Homo sapiens: one gene and its partner. The protein of the gene in region 2 interacts with the protein of the main gene of each other region in a pairwise test. Each region holds a gene or a part of one and is shown on either strand. Other genes may lie near its edges.

Region 1 (2,661 bases), on a different chromosome or scaffold from region 2:
CACAACCCGGCACACCCCACGGCCGAGGCTGGAGAGTGCAGGTGCCTGGTGGACTGGCCCGGGTGGGTGCCATGCACGGCTGCAGAGCCTGCTGGGAGCACAGAGGCTGCCCACTGGGTAGCCCCTTCCTCAGCCTGCAGATGCCAGCCCTGGGGGCCCAGGGGATCATCCAGACAGGTCCAGCCAATGTCCGGGGTGTGTGTGCAGGGGGTGCTGGCATGGCACTGATTTGGACCTTTCCACACAGAGCAGACAAGGCAGCTGAGGCCCGGAGGGGAAACGGCGTCCCCACGCCTGTCCAACTGCGGGCCTCTTGGCATCCTTTTCTGTGTAGGACTCCCTGCCAGGCTGTGAACACCTCACGGGGCTTGATGTTCCTTTGAGCACTTGCCAGTGGTTTGCAGAGGCTGGGCCAGGCCCTGGATGGCCACGTCAGAAGTGCAGGACGATGTCCCGGGTGGGACGGGGCCGTGTTAGAGATGAGTCCCCGGGAGCATGAGGCACAGCCAGGAGGGTGTGGGACTGTGGGGGCAGGGAGAGGGCAGGCCGTTTATCCGAGATGCAGCACCTGTCCCAGACTGTATGTCCGGGGCCAGCGTTGTGGAGCTAACCCTCCTGCTCCCCGCCGGGGCATCCTCCCTCGGGCTCTGGTGCTGCAGGTCCCTGTGGATGCTGCTGAAACTGAGACAGAGGCTGCGGAGCCCCACGGCGCCCTTCACCAGGTAGGAGCCCGTGATCACCCAGCAGGGAGGCCCACTCCCTCCAGCAGGCGTGGGATCCCGGCTCGCAGCCACCCCTGTGCAGGCCCATGCTGGGGACTGTTGTGCTCAGGTCATGGGGGAGTCATCACAGCCTCTGGTGGGTGGCGGTACCTTTTACAGATGGAGAAACTGAGGCTTGCTTGAGCGGGGACTCCAGGGCTGAGCCTTCATGGCTGCGCCCCCAGCAGGAGAGAATGATCAATTTCCCGAAGGCCATGGCCATTGTTACTGTTGCTTTTTCTTTTTGTTTTTTGAGACAGGGTCTTGCTCTGTTGCCCAGGCTGGAGCACAGTGGTGCCATCTTGGCTCACTGCAGCCTCTGCCTCCTGGGCTCAACTGATCCTCCTGTTTCAGCTTCCCGAGTAGCTGGGACTACAGGCACGGGCCAGCACGCCTGGCTAATTTTGTTTTTTATTTTTTGGTGGAGATGGGGTCTCGCCATATTGGCCAGGCTTATCGTCACTGTGTCATCCTGATAAAGAAAGGCCGGGCAGGCACAGGCCACGCTCCTGGGGGTTCCCCCTTCCCTCCACACCTCCCAAAGTGCATTTGTGCTTTCTGTTTTTCACAAGGAATCCCCATCTCTGGGTGTTCAGGACGAGGAGTGAGGTGTGGATTTGAGGACTTGGACCCGGGTTCCTGCCCTGTTCGTGCTTGGGTCGGGGGGGTGATGGGGACTCAGTCTCTGTGGATGGTCAGGGAGGCCACCTCAGTCCTGCCAGCTCCTCCCACTCACAGGCAGGGGCTCAGGGCTGCCAGGCCACACAGGGCATTCAGGGGCTTGGGAAGGGCAGGCAGGTGTGAGCGTGAGTGTAAGCGGCCCCTCTCTGCCCCACAGCCCGCTGCCCCGGGGCAAGCGGAGGGCCATGGAGGCGCAGATGCAGTCGGAGGCGCTGTCACTTCTCAGCAACCTGGCCGACCTGGCCAACGCCGTGCACTGGCTGCCCCGGGGCGTGCTGTGGGCCGGCCGCTTCCCGCCGTGGCTAGTGGGCCTCATGGGCACCATCTCCTCAATCCTCAGCATGTACCAGGCGGCCCGGGCCGGCGGCCAGGCCGAGGCCACTACCCCCTGACACTGCCGGAAGAGCACAGGGACACAGCCAGAGCCCACGGAGGGCCCTTCCCGCAAAGCAGAAGCCGCCAGGGCAGGGGCCGGGGCTCTCATGGAGCTGCCTGTGGTGAAACCCATGGGCAGGGTGGGTGGAGGGACTGATGCGAGGTCCCCCAGGCCTCAGCCTGGAGCTCCTGAGCCGTGACAGTTTTCAGGGGCCGTGCAGGGCTTCAGCAGCACCTCCTGCCTGCCAGCTGGCGTCTTGTATCCAAATCAAGATGAGGAAGAGGGGGCCTGTCGTGCCTTGAGAAAGCTGGAACGGGAATCAATTAAACATTGTGGTGCTGGCGCCTGGCTCAGGGGTGAAGGTTATTACACTGCTGGCTCCTGGCCCCTTACCCTCCACAGGACGGACCCAAAGTTGGAAACCACACTACCCCAGCCCACCTTCAGGAATGCCCTCAGCCCGGTGGGTCCTCTCCATCTTTGAGCAAGCGTTGCCCACGGACCCCAAGTGGCCTCCAGCCATTGAGGGCTGTTCTCTACTCCCCAGAGTCCTGGGCACACAGGCCAGAGGCGCCACCTCTCATCAGGCCACCCGAGGGCGTGGCCTCATGCCACTGTGCTGCCGACGCAGGGCCACTGTGAGCATTTTAAGGGCTCCAGGCTGAGACTGGGCAACACACACTGGCATCGCTGAAGATACTTGGGGCTCCCACCTCAGCCAATGTGTGGTGGGATGGGATGAGGGCACTGCTTAGTCTGCTGGCTGAGAACAACCCTTCAGAGTCTGTGCACATGTGGCCTCTGGCAGACATTGTTGCACAGCCTGGCCCAGGAACACACAAC
Region 2 (5,510 bases):
ATAAAATCCTATGTATCCCAAACAGCTGTACAGTCTCTGTGAGGAATCTTCAGAAGGCATCTTTCCTGAACTGACAGTGGCCAAAGTCTAGAGGACTTCAAGGAACTAAAATGGCCCACTTAATGGCTCCTAAAGCAGTCATTACCCCATGTTGTTCTGGTCATGAATTCTGTGAGAATCTGTTGAAAGCTAGAAATCCTCTCATCAGACAATGCCTGTACTCATCTAGTTCAGGAGAATAAGTAAGGACTTATAGGGCAGATGGTTGGTTTTTGATCTTGCCTCCAGAAATAAAGACAGATAGCTGAAGATAATGGGGTTTTTCCACTTATCTTAGAGGAAGTAAGCAACTAACTACTGATCCTATGCCAAGATTCAACGGTATCATTCTGGAAACTTCATAACTTCTTCACATTGGTTATTTTTGCTCTTCCCCTCTCACTTTCCCCACAAGGATTAGCACTTAAGTACTTAAAACACCAAGAGTTTGTGTCTATCTTTAGATACAGAAGGAAAGTAAAGCTAGAGGATGCAAGCTACGTCTCAGCCAGTTTGAGGAAAGAGAGGACCTGGTGACACAGTGAGTAAACGAGAGGAGAGACACACAAGCTAATAACCCCCAAGCCTTGCGGTGGTGAATCAAGAACATTGTTTTCTGGGGAAGAATTTTCATGATCTTCCCTATGGAATTTTTCATAATTCATTTCAACTCTATTTCCCATCATACCCTCTTTTTTTTTTTTTTCCGAGACAGAGTCTCACACACAGTGGCGCAATCTTGGCTCATTGTAAGCTCTGCCTCCTGGATTCACACCATTCTCCTGCCTCAGCCTCCCGAGTAGCTGGGACTACAGGCACCTGCCAACATGCCCAGCTAATTTTTTGTATTTTTCGTAGAGATGGGGTTTCACCATGTTAGCCTGGATGGTCTCGATCTCCTGACCTCATGATCCGCCCGCCTTGGCCTCCCAAAGTGCTAGGATTACAGGCATGAGCCACCGTGCCCGGCCTCCCATCTTACTCTTATTGGTGTTAAGTGCTTGGTGCTATGGGAAGTCAAGTCATTGACTGGGGCTAGTTAGAAGAGGGAAGAAGGGAAAATAAAGATATATGAGCATTGTATATTTACACATTGGGTATCATTACTGAAAAATTGCACAAACTCCAAGTTGCAACCGGCCAAATATTGCTCAAAGAGTAGGGAGTACTAAAATTTGAGGGCTGGTACTATAACTTGTTTTGCATTCTATTTGCAAAGCTAAACACCCTGCCTGGCACATAGTAGGTACTCAGTAAATAGTACAAATGAATAAATGAATGAATGGAATGGAATTGTCATGGGATTTGCAGTCATAAGATGTGGATACTAGCCTTGATGCACCCACTAACTAGATGTGTGACAAGCCACTTTACGTCTTCAGGACTGGCTTTTATTTTCTTTAAGAGAATTGAACCAAATATAGATATGGTACTTGAACATTCTACAATTTCCAGTGTGAATATACTTAGTTAAGACAAAGCTATTTGCACTCACTACTATGTACTGTAGACAAGATGGTGTGATATGTGCCAACATATAGTATGTCTAGGAGTTCAAGGAAGTCTAATTTGGGAAAAGTTTGTTCTGTCCTAAAAGAAACTGAGACCTAAATTTATCTAAGTGTCATCCTGTGATCAGCAATGCATTCAGCGGCACTTGCATAACCATTGCCTCCGGCAGGACTGCACCAAAATAGCAGAAGGAAAAGAAGGAAGAGGCAATGTCACACTTCTGCTAAGAAGAGAGTTATGGCAAGTACAAGTTGCTGAGAAAGAAGCAAACTGCTCATTTGGATGAAGGAAATTAATTCTTTGAAGCCATCAAAGATTCCTGCAGCTTTGAGAATAGTTTGGTAAGTGGATCTCAATCCCCAGAAAACTCTTTGGTAAAAGAACAAGTGCCCATCTTTTAGATCATGTGCTTAGCTTCAGGGCAGATATGTCCTGAAGGTCTTGTGTAAACAAAACACAAGTGAAATAATATTCAATTCAAAATGAGACAATAGTTACAGTGAAATAGAGAAATACAAAGTTGGTTTTTTTACTTATTATTATTTACTGACATCAAGTTGGTTTCATTAATATTTACTTAATATCTATCAGAAACAAATATTATTTTAAGTAAACAGTTTCTCTTAAGTTTTAGGCAAATTGCTCTATGATTTCACTAACTGAATACCATCCATCTTTAAGATGCTAAAACTATGTTACTTCTATCCATACAACTTTCAGTATTAAATATCCTTTATTGAAAATAATAAGCAAAAATCTTTAATACATGCACAAACACTGACTTGTTACAGTTTCTTTTACTCAGTTTATCCATTTCTTCTGGGCAGATTCTTTTGGTTTCTTGACAATACTGTGCACTGGTGAATCTAACTCTGCTGGAAGTGCTTAAGTGGTTTCAAATATGTTGGGACCAGACACATAACTTAATTGCCATCCTAATTTCCAAGGATCTTGCTTTCAAGGATACCTGGGATTTTTGCTCACTTCTGTGGAATGTGCCCTCACAATGACCTGTGATAAATAGTGCACGATTTTTAAAAAATGATCTAAAATGTGGGGTGTTTTTATAACTATTTCTCATTTCTTGGCTCAGGAAATATTATTCTTGCCTCCTATGGTCATCCTGTTATTCATCAGCAGATGCTACTGATCCAACAGCTTCCCAGCTAAGATGGAAGGATGAGTAAGTGGTTGGAGAAGCCATATTTTTGTCTTTTCTACACAAATTCACAGGGAGGAGTGTTTGCTTTCTCTTCCTCCCTTCAGGTGTGGGCTTCAATGTTTTGGGGCTGTCTCTGGAGAAGCCTGGGAAGTTAAAATGCCTTAAAAGCAAGATGTCCAAAAGCCATAGGGGATACATATTATCAACTGCAGGATGAAAAATGCTTTTGCAAACCTGCAGCAGTTAAGGATACAAAATGATCTAGGACTTCGAAATAATACAGCTAAATCAACAAGCAAATGTTATTCTTAGTGTCTGGCAATTACAGTAAGGCTTTTTTTTCATTGTTTAACCACATTGTTTAATCAATTTTCATTGTTTAATTGCATTGTTTAATCACATTGATACATATATATATATATATATATATATATATATATATATATAAAATGTTCTTTGCTTTAATACTGGTGTTGATTAAAGTGGGAAAATGTCTATTGAATGAAGATGTCACCTGAAACCAGTCCTCTTTATAAAGTTAGATATCTCACAGAAATCTTCCAATCAATATGGCTGGCAATGAGACCCATAATCCAAACTCTGTGATCACACAGCACACCCTCGTCTGAAAATATTTTATGACAGCAGTAACAGAGCCAAGCACCAGGTCTCGAAGGTCTTATTTTCTGACTCTACGTTCCATGGAAATACCTGGACTAGCTATTCCAAAATCTCCCCCTATGCTGTGGCAGCTACTTATGAAAGCCCTGGGGATCCTCACGCCAAAGATTCTGATTCAGTAGGTTTAAGGTGGGGACAGAGAAATTTGTATTTCTGTCACCCAAAATTGAGGCTGTCACCCCTAAACTACCACTATTCATATAAAAGTGTGCATTAATAATAAAAAAAGATTGGCTTCATTATTGAAATAAAAATCAGAGGCGACTACTCATAGGAAATCCAATCTGCTCAGAGGTAATAAAATAAAACAGTTAAGTTATATTAGATTTAATTTCCCCCTTACCTCTGGATGCCGTAGTTTTATTTATCTGAGTGCCTATCCTGTATATATGAGTTCAAATGTTTGAATAAAATTTACAAGTGATCACCTTTGCGACTGTCTTCTGCTCTTTACATGGGCATGTAGCGTTAGCAACACCAGCCATCAACAAAAACTGGCATTGTCACGACTCCAATGCCAAAAATAGTTTGTTTCATTTTTAAAATTAATATTATTTTAAATTTACAAGTTATAATTTCATACATTCAGAGGATACAGTAGCCATCACTTATCTTTTTTTTGGTGAGACATTTGAAATTTACTTAGTTATTTTTAAATGTACATTATCATTGACTATAGTCATTCCGCTGTGCAGTAGATCTCAAAACGAATGCCTCCTGCCTAACTGAAAATTTGAACCCTTTGACCAGTAACTTCCCCCCACCTCCCCACACCCTGCACCCCTACCACTTTTTGCCTTCAACCTCTAGTAACCACCATTCTTCTCTCTACTTTTATTTATGAGTTCAATATGTTTAGATTCCACCTAAAAATGAGATGATGCAGTATTTCTCTTTCTGTGCCTGAATGCCAATAATGTTTGAGGACCTACTAGGAAGTCAATTTAACTATTTTATTTCTATCCCCTCATAAATTAAATAAATGAAAAACAAAACAATTAAGATTACCTATGGCAGGTGAGTTTCATAGCCTTAGAGCAGGGGTCAACAAACATTTTCTGTAAAGGACCACAAGGTAAATATATTAGGATTTAAAGGTCATAATAATTGATTGGTTAGGGCACTAAAGCAGTCATAGCCAATAGGGATGACTAGACGAATGATACAAGCTGTTTTCTGATAAAACTTTATTTATAGACACTGAAGGTTAAATTTCATATACGTTAAATTTCCTATAATTTTTCCCATGTCACAGAATATTATTCTTTTGATTTTTTCTAAGTTTTAAAAATATAAGAACCATTCTTAGTTCAAAGAATAAACAAAAAGGCAGGGGCCAGATTTCAGCCTTGGGCCAAAGCTGCTGACCCCTGGGCTGGAACACAGAGCTGATGAAGCCAAGGAAGAATTCTACAGCTGTGTGAACCTGTTTCTTCCATTATGCTCTGCTGCACTGTTCTTTGGCCATAAGTTGCATTTCTGCTTCCAGCCTACCACCATGCAAATGCATGGGGATCCAGGAAGTGGATATATGAGACTCAAAAACCAATGTTCCTACAGATGCCCTATGTAGTCACACTGTATTGCCCTGCAGGGGATGGCTTACAAAGATCAGATAAGGCCCAGGCCTACCACGGGACCTAAGAGGCCCTGGGGAGTCTTCCCCATTGTTTATGCCTCAGGTCACATGTATGAAACAGAGACTTCACAAAATGTATCTTGATGAGGTCCTGCAGAACCTTGCCAAAGAAGTAGAAATGAAAAACAATTTTGCTTTTAATCAGACTGCAGATCCTGTTTCTGAATATCATCCACAGAGCAGGGTTGTTTTCATCATCAACTTAATGCCTATTAACAGAGTCAATTCCAGTCTCCCGCTTTCCACCAACTAAGTAGGATTAAAGAGATGAGAGAAGCTTATGGTTAATAGAGAACTGTAGATGTTAAAAGGTTTAATCTATTAATATAGGACAGCATTTCCCAAAGCGTGTTATGCTGAATGCTGGCTCTCTTAGATGTTCTGCTGGAAAAGCATTTCAACGTCAAGTTTAGGAAATGTAGCATAAAAGATCTCTCTTTTCTTGATTATTAACATGCATTAGGACATGCATGCTCT

Evidence for each region. Proteins that work in one complex are often made in the same cells at the same time.
Region 1: the proteins of FAR2 (region 2) and PEX11G come close enough for resonance energy transfer, tested with the Homo sapiens proteins (one large-scale study listed by BioGRID).

The regions. Positions count from the first base shown.
Region 1 is NC_000019.10:7,476,375-7,479,035, reverse strand, and holds the end of PEX11G (peroxisomal membrane protein 11C), read left to right. Parts: exon of another isoform or gene 1-659; coding exon 660-722; exon of another isoform or gene 723-1,599; coding exon 1,600-1,834; 3' UTR 1,835-2,161; downstream 2,162-2,661. UniProt on the Homo sapiens protein: Promotes membrane protrusion and elongation on the peroxisomal surface.
Region 2 is NC_000012.12:29,154,757-29,160,266, reverse strand, and holds part of FAR2 (fatty acyl-CoA reductase 2), read right to left. Parts: intron 1-5,510. UniProt on the Homo sapiens protein: Catalyzes the reduction of saturated but not unsaturated C16 or C18 fatty acyl-CoA to fatty alcohols (FAls). A lower activity can be observed with shorter fatty acyl-CoA substrates.